2 linked regions of the Homo sapiens genome follow. The protein of the gene in region 1 purifies or fractionates together with the protein of each later gene. This does not show direct contact. Each region holds a gene or a part of one and is shown on either strand. Other genes may lie near its edges.

Region 1 (6,942 bases):
TTTTTGTTTCATTTTCTAAATTTCCTGTAGCGCTGTTTTGTTATTTTCTAAATCAAGAAAATGAGTACATTCATGGTTTCCCTATAATGAGCTCAGATTCACTTCCCTGGGACCCACCTGCTCCCTAGCTCTGGCCCACGTGTCTGGGACAATTTCTGCCATGGGATGCCTTTCTCATTTGGGACAGTCCCTCAGACATATGAGAATCTGTCCCTACTTTCTCTTTCCCAGACTCAGTCAACATCCCTGGCTCTTTGAAGATGACCTGTCAAGGTTTTAAAATCCTTCAAAAGATGGAGCCCAGAACCGCACCCAGGTGGGTCTGCCCCCTTTGGGGGGCAGCCATGTCACACTGTGGATCCTGGGTCTCAACCCCTACCTATACTTGTTTGGAGGAAGCTGCATTCTGTCCCCGAAATTTCCAACCCTTGCCGAGGGCCACTCTGTGTGGCTCAGCCTTTTGGGGTCTGGCCCCCCTGCGGTGGTGAATGGGAACATTTTCTGCTTTTTCCTTGCCCCTGACCCAATGCAGAGAGAAGAGCAGCTGCTTCTGAGAGGGTGGAGGGCACCAAGCTCACCAATGAAAAGCACATCCCTGCACACGTGCCAGCCAGAAGCCAGACTCCTTTCTTCAAAGGCCCTGGGACCCTGGATCACACCTTCACAGCTCACAGTTGGTAAAAAAATAAAATAAAATAAAATAAAAATTAAAAAGGCTGACTGGGGTGGGAGGGAGCTAACCATGTCAGGCTCCAGCCCCAGTCCCTCAGGCTGGAAAGGAAGTTAGGGCTGGGTGTGGGGCCATGTGAGGGGAGTCTCACAGGCCCAGGACATCTGGGTCCCCTCCACTGTGCATGTCAGGACAGCCAGAAAAAAAAGTGAAAAAACAAAAAAACCCTAAATCGTGAGCAGGGACCCAGCAGGACAAAACTGCCAGCAGCTCCAAGGGAGCCCAGACACTGCTCAGCACCCACCAGGGCAATGCCTGCTCTCCTGGGCCAGAGGATCCTGCCAGGCCTCAACCTCACCCCTGCTGTCCTTGCCCTGTTCCTGCTGTGGCCACAACCAAGAAAGACACTGGAACCGCCAGGGTACTAGGAGCTTGAAACAGGCCCCCTGGGTGTCCCCACTCTCACAATGCTCCCATGTCCCCAGTCTGTAGCCTGCTGCCAGTGGAGACAGAGCTTCCACGGTTCCCATGTGACCCCATTTATATCCTGAACTTGGCTGCTCCTGTGCCAGCTGGGCCATAGGTGTGGCGAGTGCTGGGTCAGGACTGACCACCAGGTTGTTTCAACTCAGAGCCGGGGCCAGGACCGGACCTTCCTGCCACACCACACAGATGGCCATACACCACACATTCCCCACATCTCCTGCTAGCTGACCCAGCCACAGCTGGAGCCGGAAGCCCTTTCACTCCCTCCAGCCCTCTGCAGGGAAGCACGTGCTCAACCAACAAGGTCCCTCTGGGGCCGGGCTGGGGGCCTGTGTCCCCAGTGGGTGAAGGTGCCTGCCTGGTTTCCTTCCACCCACAGCCATCCAGCCCTGTATAGCTGGGGATGAAAGGACAGCCAGCCTAACTCCACTAGAGGCCTGGGGTAGCAACTTCTCCCTTTGAGCCTCGGTTCCCGGGTGTACAAAATGGGCGGGGAAGTGAACTGGTAGTTAAGCTCCAAAAAATCTGCTGGCTGGACACACCCCTTCCTGACACCTGGTCTGGGCCACAAAGAGCCTAGGAGAATGGGCTGCCCAGGGTGCCAGAAGGTGGGGGCATGGTGCTAATGCTCCGTTACCTCCCCCCGGGCAGAAGGCCTGCCCAGTTTCCCACCCAAAGATCCCTTGGCTTAGGCCTGGTCTTCTGAGAGGCCAAGGGTGACAGGCTCAGTCCTAGGACCTGGGCTTCTAACTGCTCACCCGAGGTGGCTGGGCCCTGGGCTTGCTTGCAGCCCGCAGGGTCATGGTGGGGTAATGAGGGAGGGGTCAGAACCAAGCAAGCCAGGGCACCTGCGGGGAGGCCCTGTACAGGGAAGGGCAGGGGAGTCCAGCACTCTCTCTAGGGACCTGGCCCATACGGATCCTCTTCCTCCAGACTCCAGCCACCTCCTACTCTGAGCTCCACAGAGGGGGGGACTCGGGATGACCCGAGAAGACGAGTCCGTGGAGCTGCAGGGCAGTACCTCCCTCATGCACTCCCTTCCAATTTGGGTTCTGACAGTGGCTCCTGGGAGAATTCGAACCCGTGCAAGGGAGTAAAGGAGAGAAGGGAGAAGTGGGAGAAGAGGGGAATGGGAGTGGACGCGACAGTGGCAGCAACAGAGACTAGACGCGCGACCTCCACCCTCTTCCCTCCAGGGGACACTCCGGGACGGCCAGGCACTCACCTCTCTTGGGGCACTGCGGTCCGGGCCACCTCGCCGCGGGCGGCATCAGCGGCCTGCGGGACGGTCCATGCGGTCAGGGGGGAGGGGAGGGGCGCAGGGGTCCCCAGGGGGTGCGGTACAAAGAGGTATGGGTGCAAGGAGAGGGGAGGAGGGACCGCCAGGCAGAGGCAGGGGGACGGACGCACGGCCCGGGTCGCGGAGGGAAGAAAGGCGGGGGAAGGGGGCGGGAGGGAGTCGGGGGGAGGAAACAATGTAGCCGGCGCGGCCCCGGCAGAGTTCCGCTTCCGAGCGCCGCCACTGAGGTTCGATTTTGGAACGTCGCGCTGGCTGCCGGGGGCCGCCCCGGACGCTCGATCGGGGCCGCGGGGCTCCTCGCGCTCCACGCCCCGCGGGCTCCGGCGGCCAGAGGCTGGCTGGGGCGGGAGGGACGGCGGGCCGGGTTACGGCCCCGACGGCGGCGCAGCCGGGCGGTCGCCCGGCTCGGACCCCACCCCGGCAGAAGCCCCCGGGCAAGGCGCGGGTGGGGCAGGAGCGGGAGGGCGGCAGCGGGCTCGGCGGCGGCGGCGGCCAACCTCGGCTCGCCCAGGGCTCCGCTGGGAGGAAGCTCGCAGGCCTGGCGAGAGGAAGCGCGGCCCGGATCCTCCGCCCGCGGCAGCGCGCCTGCGCGAGGGGGCCTGCCCGGCGCGCGGCGGGGCGTGGGCCGGCGGGGCGGCGCCCCCTGCCGGGCGCCGGGGGCACTGCGGGGGGTGTGTCCGCGCCCACGCCCTGCCCCCACTTGCCGCCTGGCTGCGTTGAAGGCTCCGAGGGTCTCTCCTCAGCCGGCCTGGGAGCAACCTCCCAGCCTTCTCTGGACGCAGCTTTCCCGCTGCAGAAGCGCTGGGGGCCGGGCCTGGGCCCCTCTCCTCAGGTCTGTTTGTGGAGAGTGGGCCTGATTCGCAGCAGAAAGCCTTCATTCATTCATTCACCAACATTTCCTGGCGCTGACATCGTGGCGGAGCCTGCTCTGGAGTCTATTGGCAAGACCATTTCACTACCGTCAAGGCGTTCTCGGTCGGGTGGGGGTAGGCTGACAGGCCGACAGACAACGGCAAGGAAATAATTGATCAAAGTGGAGAGGTGGTGGACACGGTTCCCAGGAGGCAGAAAGAAAACTAGGGCTAACGGGGAGACCTCACACCTCACAGAGCCGGGACCAGGCAGAGGGAACAGCATGCACAAGGGCGGGGAGTGCGGAGGGAGCTTGGTGGCTTCTGGGATCTAAATATAGCTCAGGCGGCTGCCGCTTGCAGTGTGGGTGGGGGAGAGTGGTGGGAGATGGGTTCCTGCAAACAACAGGGGCAAAAGAGATCCAAAGAGCCTCATGGGACTTTCTTGGAGTTTATGTTCAGCCTGGAGGCAATAAAGAAGTTGTCAGCAGCTCTGTGACCTTGGGCAAGTTACTTAACCTCTCTGTGCTTTAGTTTCCCCATTTGGTAAAATAGGTGATATATAATGGCACCGACTTCTTAAGTTTTTGTGGGGAGGGGAGGAAATGAGTTAATACGTTTAAAGTGCTTAGTATGCAGTAGCTGGCACGTGAGGAGCCCTCCGTTAAGCAAGGGCTGTTACATCACTGTTAACGAAAAGCAGGGAGATGACCTGCTCTGAGCCACAGGAGAGGACAGCGTGCTCAGGCATGACAGGGGTGGGAGAGTGCAGGGTGGCGGGGGAACAGAATGGGGATGCAGTGATGAGGGTGAGACCGGGGAACAGAATGGGGATACAGTGATGAGGGCGAGACCAGAGACTCCAGCGTAGGGAGGAGGTAAAGGTGGGGGACTTTCTAGGGACTAGACCCTGAAGCAAGGGTCAGGCTTGGGTGGACAGAGGGAAGAGGCACTCTTGGGGTTGGGGGGGAGGAAGTGGGGCATGCTGACAAAGTCTTGGAACACAAAATAAGCATGAAGAGGCCCGAGGGAGCGAGAAGAGGGCAAACAGCCCTGTGGGAGACGGAGCTGGGAGACAGTGTGGCTGCAGATTGTTTTAAAGAGCCTCGGATGCCAGGAGGAGTTGCCCCCAAAACCACAGGTCGGCCCTCTGACCCAGGGCACCCTTAGGCCGGTTTCCCAGCTGGAGCCAGCCCTTTGGAGAGGGATGTCCTTTGAGGAGACAGCCAGTAAGTTTCAGAGATAGGTGTGGTGTAACAGAAAAAAGATGAATTTGGGGTTCAAGTCTCCAAGTTAAATTTCAACCCGTCCACTTACTAGCTGTGTGACTTAGGGCTAGTTACCTAAGGTCTCTGAGCTGTTTCCTCTTTTGTAAGATCAGGCTCAAAATATACTTCTCTCATGATAGATAGTGCAGATTCAGCAAGATAACGGCCTGGGGGTGAGGGAGTGGAAAGGGTGCTCAGCAGAGCTGGTTTCCCTTTCTTTCCTCTGAGGTCAAGATGGAATGATAATATGGGGCCGGATGGGGGGCCGCCTCTCAGCCTACAAGAAAGCACTTCAGCAGCTCTGCAAAGCCTTCTGGGAGGGAGAAATTGACATCTCCCCTCCCCTGGCTGAATCAGCTAGCAGAATGGGAAAGAAAAGACTGGGGATTTGGGGAAAATACTCTAATCCCTGTTCCAGTTTTGTCACCAACCTTTCTTTATCCCCAAATGCACTTGACTTTTTCCCCTGGGTGTGCTGTGGCCCAGCTGTGAACTTTGGAGTCAAATAGACCAGCATTTGAATCCTGGCTCCACCTCTTCTCAGCAAAGTGAAATAAATTTTTTAATCTTCCTGTACTCCAGGCACTGGGGATAAAACCATAAACAAATCGATAAAGGGCCCCACTCCCACAGACCTGTCCTCTGGTGGAATTATTGGGCTGGGCGCCGTGGCTCACACCTATAATCCCAGCACTTTGGGAGGCCGAAGCAGGCAGATCACAAGGTCAGGAGATCGAGACCATCCTGGCTAACATGGTGAAACCCTGTCTCTACTAAAAATACAAAAAATTAGCTGGGCGTGGTGGCGGGTGCCTGTAGTCCCAGCTACTGGGGAGGCTGAAGCAGAAGAATGGTGTGAACCCAGGAGGCGGAGCTTGCAGTGAGCCGAGATCACGCCACGGCACTCCAGCTTGGGCAATAGAGCGAGACTCTGTCTCAAAAAAACAAAACAAAACAAAACAAAACAAAAAAACAAATGCTTATTGAGCACCTACTAAGTGCTAGGTGGGAAGTGCTAATTAGGGAAAGGGAATCTGGTCGGTGGGAGCAAGGGAAAGCAAAAAGAGAAATTAGATAAGCTGTGAGTCTGCCTTTCTTCATGTCTAGGACATATAGCTCTCCTGTGCAAATAATTCACAATCTTCCTGTGCCCGACTATCACCAGACTCCTGCAAGTTAGCTCACTGTACCCTTGGCAAGTTAGCTCACTGTACCCTTGGCGTTTGATACTGCACAAAAACCTCCTCAACAGATAGCATAACACTAATTCTATAAAATCTCCAACAACCTTTTGTTTCCTGGCAGTCAGCTTCTCTTCTGCCTTCTTGCAATGTATTTTCCTACTTTTTCTAATAAATCTGCCTTTATCTACAACTGTCTTAGTAAGTTTTTGTTTTGTTTTGTTTTGTTTTTTGTTTGTTTGTTTTGAGACGGAGTCTTGTTCTGTTGCCCAGGCTGGAGTGCAGTGGCATGATCTCGGCTCACCACAACCTCCCGCTCTGGCATTCAACCATTCTTCTGTCTCAGCCTCCCACGTAGCTGGTACTATAGGTGTGTGCCACCATGTTCAGCTAATTTTTGTGTTTTTAGTAGCGATGGTTTTCACCATGTTGGCCAGGCTGGGCTCAAACTCCTGACCTCAAATAATCCACCCACCTTGGCCTCCCAAAGTGCTGGGATTACGGGCGATAGCCACCACGCCCCAGGCCAGTGTTGGAGGAGTGGGGGAGGGTATTGCAGGTGGGGAGGAAGATAGTGAAAGACCCTGAGGCACAGAAAGCCTCAGTGGCTCAAGGGACAGCCAGAAGGCCAAGGTGATGAGACCGGCAAGCAGGGGAGAGTGGTGTTTGAGGAAGGGACAGATTCTATAGGGTGTTGTGGGCCAGAGATTTTTATTACAGGAGTTTAGGTTTTATCATATGAGCAATGGGGAGCCATTGAAAGATGTTTATAAGCAGGGTAGTGATATGATAAAGAGTGAAGGTCGGCTGGGCCCTGTGGCTCTCGCCTGTGATCCCAGCACTTTGGGAAGCTGAGGCAAGAGGATCACTTGAGGCCAGGAGTTTGAGACCAGCCTGGGCAACAGAGCAAGACCCTGTCTCTACAAAAAAAAAATTTCTAATTAGCTAGGCATGGTGGTGTGTGCTGGTAGCTAGCAATCTTCCCATCTCAGCCAGGCTGAGGTGGGAGGATCACTTAGGGTGGGAAGATGGAGGCTGCAGTGAGCCACTGAACTTCAGCCTGTGCAACAGAGTGAGACCCTGACTCCAGAAAAAAAAAAAAAAAAAGTTAAGGTCAAAGGTCAAAGCCCTAGTGAGGAGGCTGTTGCATGGCCTGGACCAGGGCTGACGGGTCTAGCCCTGGTGG
Region 2 (7,045 bases), on another chromosome or scaffold:
CTCCTGGAGAGCCACAGCTATGAGGCACACGGCCATATGCTGGGCAGTAACTGGGAACTGCTCCTCCATAGCTGTATGTCACCAGGGCAGGGTACCCTGGATGCCCATACCTGCCTTCGGGGCACATGGTGTAGGAGCAGCCCTCGTGCCCTTCCTCGCCTGCCTTGGGTGGCTTCAGGCAGCTGTAGTCAGGCATCGGGGCATGGTGATGCCCACAGGCAGGCAAGAGCAGAGGCAGCGGGTGCCCAGGCCGCACTGGGTGCAGGAGAGGCTTGCCAGCCTCACTTGCCCACCCTTCTCCAGCCTCCCTCTCCAGCCGCAGTCCATACAAGGCTGCTGTAGGCAGCGCCAGCTTCTCCTCGCAGGCTGGGCATGGGTATAGGGCAGGCAGCCCAGGGTCCTCCAGGATGACCACCTCCCGGTAGCCTGGGGCGCGGTAGCCAAAGTCCCCAGTGGCTGGTTTCCCCATCTCAGGTGGGTAGGGGTATAGCCCCTCTGACAGCGATCGGCAGAGGCGCCTCTTCTCCATCGAGGCCTCGGCGTAGCCCTGGGGGGATCCCTCATAGCCCCCGTAGGCCAGTCGCCTCCTCTCCAGGGTTCCCTCTGGCCGGTAGTAGCCCCCATTGGGAACCCCGCAGGGCTCCCGGTAGCCCTGGCGGCAGGAGCAGTGGCGGCTGAGGCCAGGCCTATGGCCTGGATACACTCCGAGGTGGGGGCCTCCGCCCACAGTGGGCTGCTCTTCGTCATCTAGGATGGCCGTCTCGCGCCCAGCTCCCCGGCCCCCACTGGCCACTCCGCAGCCTCCTAGGAGGCGATCCAGCTCCTGCCGTTCAGCAGCTGTAGGGGGCGGCCGGCCAGGGGACTCAGCAGCCGGCTCTGTGGTCAGCGTGGAGGAATGGCCTGAGTCGCTGCTGACAGAGAGCATGGGGGGTGGTGGAGGCTCTGGAGAGGGTGCCGGGGGGGTCTGCCGGGGAGGCCGCTGCACCTGGGCATAAGGACTGCCATCCAGGGGACCCCGGGTGTGGGTCAAGGAGCCTGAGTGGGGAAGAGGATCAGGGAGGGAGGGCAAGCGGGGAACAGGGAGGGAGAGAGAAAATTCATGAGAGGGGATGGCACTGGAGACAGCTGTCGGGCCGGGGGTGTCTCTCGGGAGTGGGCTCTGCCTGGGGAGGAGGGAGTGTGCTTCTCCCTGGCACCACCCCCCAGGGTCCCGCCACAACCCTGTACCTCCCACCCTGCAGGCTGCCTGCGCACCATCCACACTGTCCTCGTGGTGCTGGTTGAAGTTCTCATAGGAGTCCCAGCGCACGGCTGGCTCAGTGGTGTTGTAGTCGACAGAGACCGAGGGGTCGTTCCGTGGAGTGCTGCCTGTGGAAGGCCACTCGGGTATTGGGGAGCAGGGGAGAGGCGGCCCTCAGTCCCCAGCCCATGTCCCTGCTCTTACCTTTGATCTTCTCGGGGCTGGAGGAGAAGACAAACTCCACGGAGGCTTGGAAGGGGAACCTCTCATCTATGGGGAGTGGACAGTGAAGAACCAGGCCCCTGGCCCATACCACACTCTCCTGCCTGCCTGCCACCTGCCTGCCACCTGCCTGCCACCTGGACTCCAGCCCCAGGCCACTTGTCTCAGACTCACCAGTCCAGGCCTCGTCAAGCTGGTCCTTGGGGAAAGTGAGCTGTGGTCCGTGGATGGTGCAGGTGTGGAACTGGACTCGGAACACGAGGGTCCGGTCTGTGCCCCGGCCACCCTTGTGATAACATGTTACCTGGGAGAAAGGCAGGAGGCTGCGGATCAGGCCTCATGTCCTCTTCTGCGCTTCCACCCTGGGGACTGCCTGGTCACAGCTTCTGCCCTGCCTCGATCTCAAGGTGATCTCCCTACTCGCTCTCCAATCTGTCTCAAATTGGTGACTGTGCCGTTACACCACCAACCCCTGCCCCATCTCCAGGATTCTTCTTGTTGACAGGACCCCCCTCACCATGACATCGCCTTTGAGGAGGAGGGCTGGCTCCAGGCTGATGCAAAGCTGCTGGGGACCAGGGCCTGCAATGTGACTGTGGGGAGAGAGGAGAAGGCAGAGATGAACCAGAAGCTCCTGCGTGCAGAGGCAGCTATGCAGTCAGGGGGAGCCAGGAGACCAGAGTCTGAGCCCTGCCCAGGTGTCTAGGGAGGCTGGAGAAGCAGGAATGCAGGAGCAAGAGGGGCCCTGGTCATGAAGTGTCAGGGGCCTGGGAATAGAGCACTCACTAGACTCCAGATGTGTAGACAAGCTGCATGGACTGGTAGATTTTAAGGAAGGGCTGGAAGCCTGGAGGGGCAGAGGAGAAGGCACAGGAGGGGTGCTGAGTGGAGAGGGCCTGAAGGTGGTTCTCCCTAGGGAGCACATCTCAGGCAGACTCACCTGTGCCAGGTTCAAAGGCTGGCAGCATGGGGATGAGCACATAGTGCAGGAAGAGAGGGCTGCTGTTCATTCTGATGGAGCCAGATAGCAGCCCACTGAAGTAGCTGATATATCTGGTGGAGGGCGTGTCAAGGAGAACATAAGCCTTTTCCTCTGGAGGTCACCTTGTATCATTTCAACCATCCACCCTTAGAAGGCTCGCTCTTCTGCTCAACACTTCCTTCCCATCTTCCGGGTCACCAGAAAGTTCTTCCTTGCATCTAACCTCAATCCCTCCTGCTCCCCTCTGCCTCAAAGCTCTTTCCCCAGAGCTCTGCTTCACTTTATAGTGGCAGGCCCTGACTGTCCTTCAGGTTCTCTTTATGACTGATCTCCTCGTCTATTTATTCCCAGGTCTACTGCCTTCCACCCTACTAGCATGAAAGCTCCATGAGAGCAGGGGCTTTGTCCACTTTGAATTCTCAGCACCTGGCACGGCGCTTGGCACACTCAGTGAAAGTGTGCTGCATGAATAAGAGAGTCTTGGCCTTGGTAGCCATGAAGGGAGCTGCTCCTCTGGCCCATCCCCACCCAGGCTGCTCACCGACGCTGGGAGGGCTGCAGTTCTGTGGCCACCTTGTCCTCGCAGAATTTCCGCATGGTAAGAGTGGCCAGTGCCTGGTCCGCCCTGGGGATAGCAAGGCCAGTGTTGGGGATTAGGGATTAATCTTCATCCTGGCCTCCCATCCCTAAGCCCCAGGGGATGGAGGAGAAATATGATTCTCTAAGTCTAGAAGAAGCCCAGAGTAGTGGTAATGAGAATGAGAAGCACCATGTACAGTCACTTTACTAGTTGTTGGGCCTCAGGCAATTGTTCCCTGAACTTTAGTTTTTTCATCTGTAAAACAGGGCAACAAAACCATCTTATGGGTTGAATTATATCCCCCCAAAAGACATGTACCTCAGAATGTGACCTTATTTGGAAATAGGGCCGTTGCAGACATAATTAGTTAAGATGAGACCATACTGAAGGAGGGTGGACCCTGAATCCAATATGATTGGTGTCCTTATAAGAAGAGAGGAAGAGACACAGACAGAGACACACAGGGAGAACACCATGTGATGACAGAGGCAGCGATTACAGTGATGTGTCTGCAAACCAAGGAATGCCAAGGCTTGCCGCCCACCACTGGAAGCTAGAAAGAGACAAGGAAGGATTCCATCCCGAGTCTCAGATGGAGCAAGGGCCTGCTGACAGCTTGGTTTGGGGCTTCTGGCCTCCAGAACTGTGAGAGAGTACATTTCCACTGTTTTTTGTTTTGTTTTGTTTTTGTTTTTTTTGAGACGGAGTCTGACTCTGTCACCCAGGCTGGAGTACAGTGGCACCGTGTGGGCTCACTGCAACCTCCGTCTCCTGGGTTCAAGCAATTCTCCTGCCTCAGCCTCCTGAGTAGCTGGGATTACAGGCGCCCACCACCACGCCCGGCTAATTTTTATATTTTTATATTTTTGGTAGAGATGGGGTTTCACCTGGCCAGGCTAGTTTCAAACTCCTGACCTCAGGTGACCTGCCCACCTCAGCCTCCCAAAGTGCTGGTATTACAGGCGTGAGCCAACGCACCCGGCCCATTTCCACTGTTTTACACCACCCTGTTTGTGGCTGCCCCAGGAAACTCTACAGACCATCTGCTGCAGACTATGTTGCAGTACTAGTGATAAAAGGGAGGTGGAAGTGCTAAGCTGACAGCAAAGGACTCTCAACGAAGAGGTGGGCTCCAGGGGAGATGGGTTCCTAAGGGGCCAGCTGGAGAAAGGGCCACTGGGGAAGCAGCTACTCAGGCGCTGGGAGCCTCACCCTGCAGAGATCTTGCTGTAGTGCATGTAGGCAGAAACGATGACCCCAAGCTTGCCCTTGTTTCCCTGACAGACAGAGAGACAGGGATGAGGGTCTGGGAGCTCCAGGCTGACCTGGAACCTCCAGGCACCAGGGAACCCGAGGTCCTGGCCCACCTTGCAGTATAGTACGACCACGTGCTGTGGGTCAGCACTGAGCCATGTCTCCATGGCTTTGCAGATGGAGCACAGCTTGTCCAGGGGTGGAGCATGCAGCTCAGGCCAGCCGAAGTCTTGAACCTGGGGAGAATGCAGGGGTGCAACTGGGGCCGGGGGCCACCAACAGAGAGAGATGGGCAGGGTGGAAAGGGGACAGGGCATAGGGGTCCGGGGGCAAGGCTGGGGGTCTGCTGGTTGTCCATGATAGCCTCGGCACTTTCCTTATCCATACAATGGGCTGATACCTGCTGCATCACGTTTTGGGGTGTCTCCAGTAATATATCATGGGAGAGTGGGAAAGTGCTTAAGAGTGAAGTAGATGCCAATTGCTACTATTAATAACGAGGAAGCTGGGGGCTTCTGGGGTTGGGGTGGCTTGGTTTAATGGTTGGGCAGGCCATTTCCTTCATACCTTGGGGTTTAAGCGGGTCAGGTCATGCCTTTTCTCTGAAAGGTTGAAGAGCTGAAATAAAGGGGGAGGGCTTTAGACAGAAATGATCTCCGGCAATGAGGCACGAGGTGGAGGTGGATCCTAAGTAAGAATCTTCCTCTAAAATAAGGTGCAGGCCGGTCGCAGTAACTCACGCCTATAACCCCAGCACTTTGGGAGACCAAGGCGGGCGGGTCACCTGAGGTCAGGAGTTCGAGACCAGCCTGGCCAACATGGTGAAACCTCATCTCTACTAAAATTACAACAATTTGCCGGGTGTGGATCGCTTGAGCCCTGGAGTCTTGAGACCAGCCTGGCCAACATGGCGAAACCCCGTCTCTACAAAAAATACAAAAAAAAAAAAAAAAAAAAAAAAAAATTGGCTGGGCGTGAGTGACGCACGCCTGTAATCCTAGCTACTGAGGCTGAGGTGGGAGAATCGCTTGAGCCCGGGTGGAGGAGGTTGCAGTGAGGTGAGATCGTGCCACTGCACTCCAGCCTGGGCAACAAAGTGAGACCCCGTCTCAAAAAAAAGGTAAATAAATAAAGAAAATAAAAAGGTAGCTAAGGCCCGGCCTAGCCAGTCACAGCCAAGTCGCCAGCGTTCCAGGATTCTCCGCTCCGCTCCAGGCCGCGCTCCGGGCCCCGCCCCCACCCCACCACTCTGGTCCCGCCCCCTGGCGGCCTCGCCTCCGCTGGTGACGTCAGTGATTAGCCTCGCCCATCTGGACCCTACATCCCTCTCATTGGCGGACTCCTGATGGCCCCGCCCCTCACCAGGTACTTGTCCCGGTGCTTGGATTGCAGCACATGGGCCAGCTCGCGCAGGTGGCCCCGGTGCCGCTGTTCATCGGGCCGCGCGGGGAAGGCGGCGGCCAAGATGCGCTCCGTCACGTAGGTGAGGTCTAAGTCCCAGCGCCGCTCCATGAGCGGGTCCAGGCTGAAGCTCCTGGGGAGGAGGAGCCTACGCATGAACGCAGGGGCGGGGCACCCGGAGGTGGCTAGTGTGACGGGAAGGCTGTCTGTTGGGCAGCAGGTGAAGCCTGCTGGGTCCTGAGGGTGGGTGGATCGGTCTGGAGGGAGAATACCGCTTTGGGGGTGGGGGGCTGTCCCGGGGAGCTCTGTTGCGGGGCAGTGCCCTGGGCTGAGGTGTGGGGCCGGCGGAAAGGGGGTCACGTGGGACCACCCCAGCACCCTCACTTACCTGGGCAGAGTGCTGCGCTGCTTTGAGTGGTTCAGAGATTTGGTGGATCCCTGGTGGTTAACAGACAGTGTCTAGACATCTCTTTGGGTACCCCCTACTCTAGACTGCCCACTCCAGAGCCATGCCCTTTTTGTCTTCAGGAAATCTAGATCCTTACTCCCAAAGCTACCTGCTTCCCCCTCCTGCTCCAGCATCACCTTACCAGGTGCTCTATGCGCCTGACTGGGGCCGTGTTTCGCCGCTAGAGGGAGATGGGGGAGGAAAAGGGAGTGGTTAGTTACAGCAGGGGCAAGGACCAATGTGGGCCTTGGGGACAGGGGAAGGGAATGTCAGTGTCCTTTTGAAGGCTGTACTGGATAAGGGGAGAGGAGTCCTACCCCCAGCAGGCCCAAGGGCACAAGATCAGCAGAGGACTCAGACAGTTTTTTCTTTCCTCATAGGATGAGCAATACCCACAGCACTCCGTTCAAGGTCATCTCCTGGGGGCCCTCTCTGGAGCCACCAGACCTCTGGACACCATGGCCAGGTTCCTTGCCCTCCCCACCCCATCCCAGAGCGCACTCACCAACTCCACGGGAGGCAAGGCCTGACAGGCTGAAGTCACCTGGAAGGGGACCGAGTAAGGAACTGAGCTCCTGGTGAAGGGCTCTCGTGGGCTTGAGGATGGGGCAGCCCCTCAGCTTCAGGAGGAAGGTGGAGGGGCCTTCAGTGGATGGGCACAGGCTCCAGCTGAGGTTGCGCTATTTAAGGGCACCTCCCCTCTGGCCTCTTGGTCCCCCACCCCCCAGGCCCCCCACTTGTTGCTCTTGGCGCTCAGCCCCCAGCCCACACAGACCCCCATTCATCCAGCTGTAGGGCAGGAGTTATATATAGAGCCAAGCAGGCAGGCCATGGCCAGGGATGGACACTGGCTTCTTTCACCGGGAGACCCCGCCCCTGGGCACACAGCTCCCCCAAGCCAGCTCCAGGGCCCTGGGA

The links. Proteins that work in one complex are often made in the same cells at the same time.
Region 2: the proteins of CSK (region 1) and TNS2 purify together in Homo sapiens (affinity purification with mass spectrometry; 6 studies listed by BioGRID and IntAct, with this or other methods). This does not show direct contact.

Annotation. Positions count from the first base shown.
Region 1 is NC_000015.10:74,778,160-74,785,101, reverse strand, and holds the start of CSK (tyrosine-protein kinase CSK), read right to left. Parts: upstream 3,023-6,942; 5' UTR 2,382-3,022; intron 668-2,381; exon of another isoform or gene 579-667; intron 1-578. UniProt on the Homo sapiens protein: Non-receptor tyrosine-protein kinase that plays an important role in the regulation of cell growth, differentiation, migration and immune response.
Region 2 is NC_000012.12:53,053,037-53,060,081, reverse strand, and holds part of TNS2 (tensin-2), read right to left. Parts: intron 6,687-7,045; exon of another isoform or gene 6,672-6,686; coding exon 6,633-6,671; exon of another isoform or gene 6,508-6,632; intron 6,309-6,507; coding exon 6,270-6,308; intron 6,118-6,269; coding exon 6,068-6,117; intron 5,813-6,067; coding exon 5,641-5,812; intron 4,897-5,640; coding exon 4,846-4,896; intron 4,515-4,845; coding exon 4,392-4,514; intron 4,302-4,391; coding exon 4,237-4,301; intron 3,139-4,236; exon of another isoform or gene 3,070-3,138; coding exon 2,986-3,069; intron 2,516-2,985; coding exon 2,403-2,515; intron 2,310-2,402; coding exon 2,249-2,309; intron 2,056-2,248; coding exon 1,980-2,055; intron 1,767-1,979; coding exon 1,637-1,766; intron 1,511-1,636; coding exon 1,445-1,510; intron 1,369-1,444; coding exon 1,255-1,368; coding exon of another isoform or gene 1,228-1,254; intron 1,036-1,227; coding exon 1-1,035. UniProt on the Homo sapiens protein: Tyrosine-protein phosphatase which regulates cell motility, proliferation and muscle-response to insulin. Phosphatase activity is mediated by binding to phosphatidylinositol-3,4,5-triphosphate (PtdIns(3,4,5)P3) via the SH2 domain.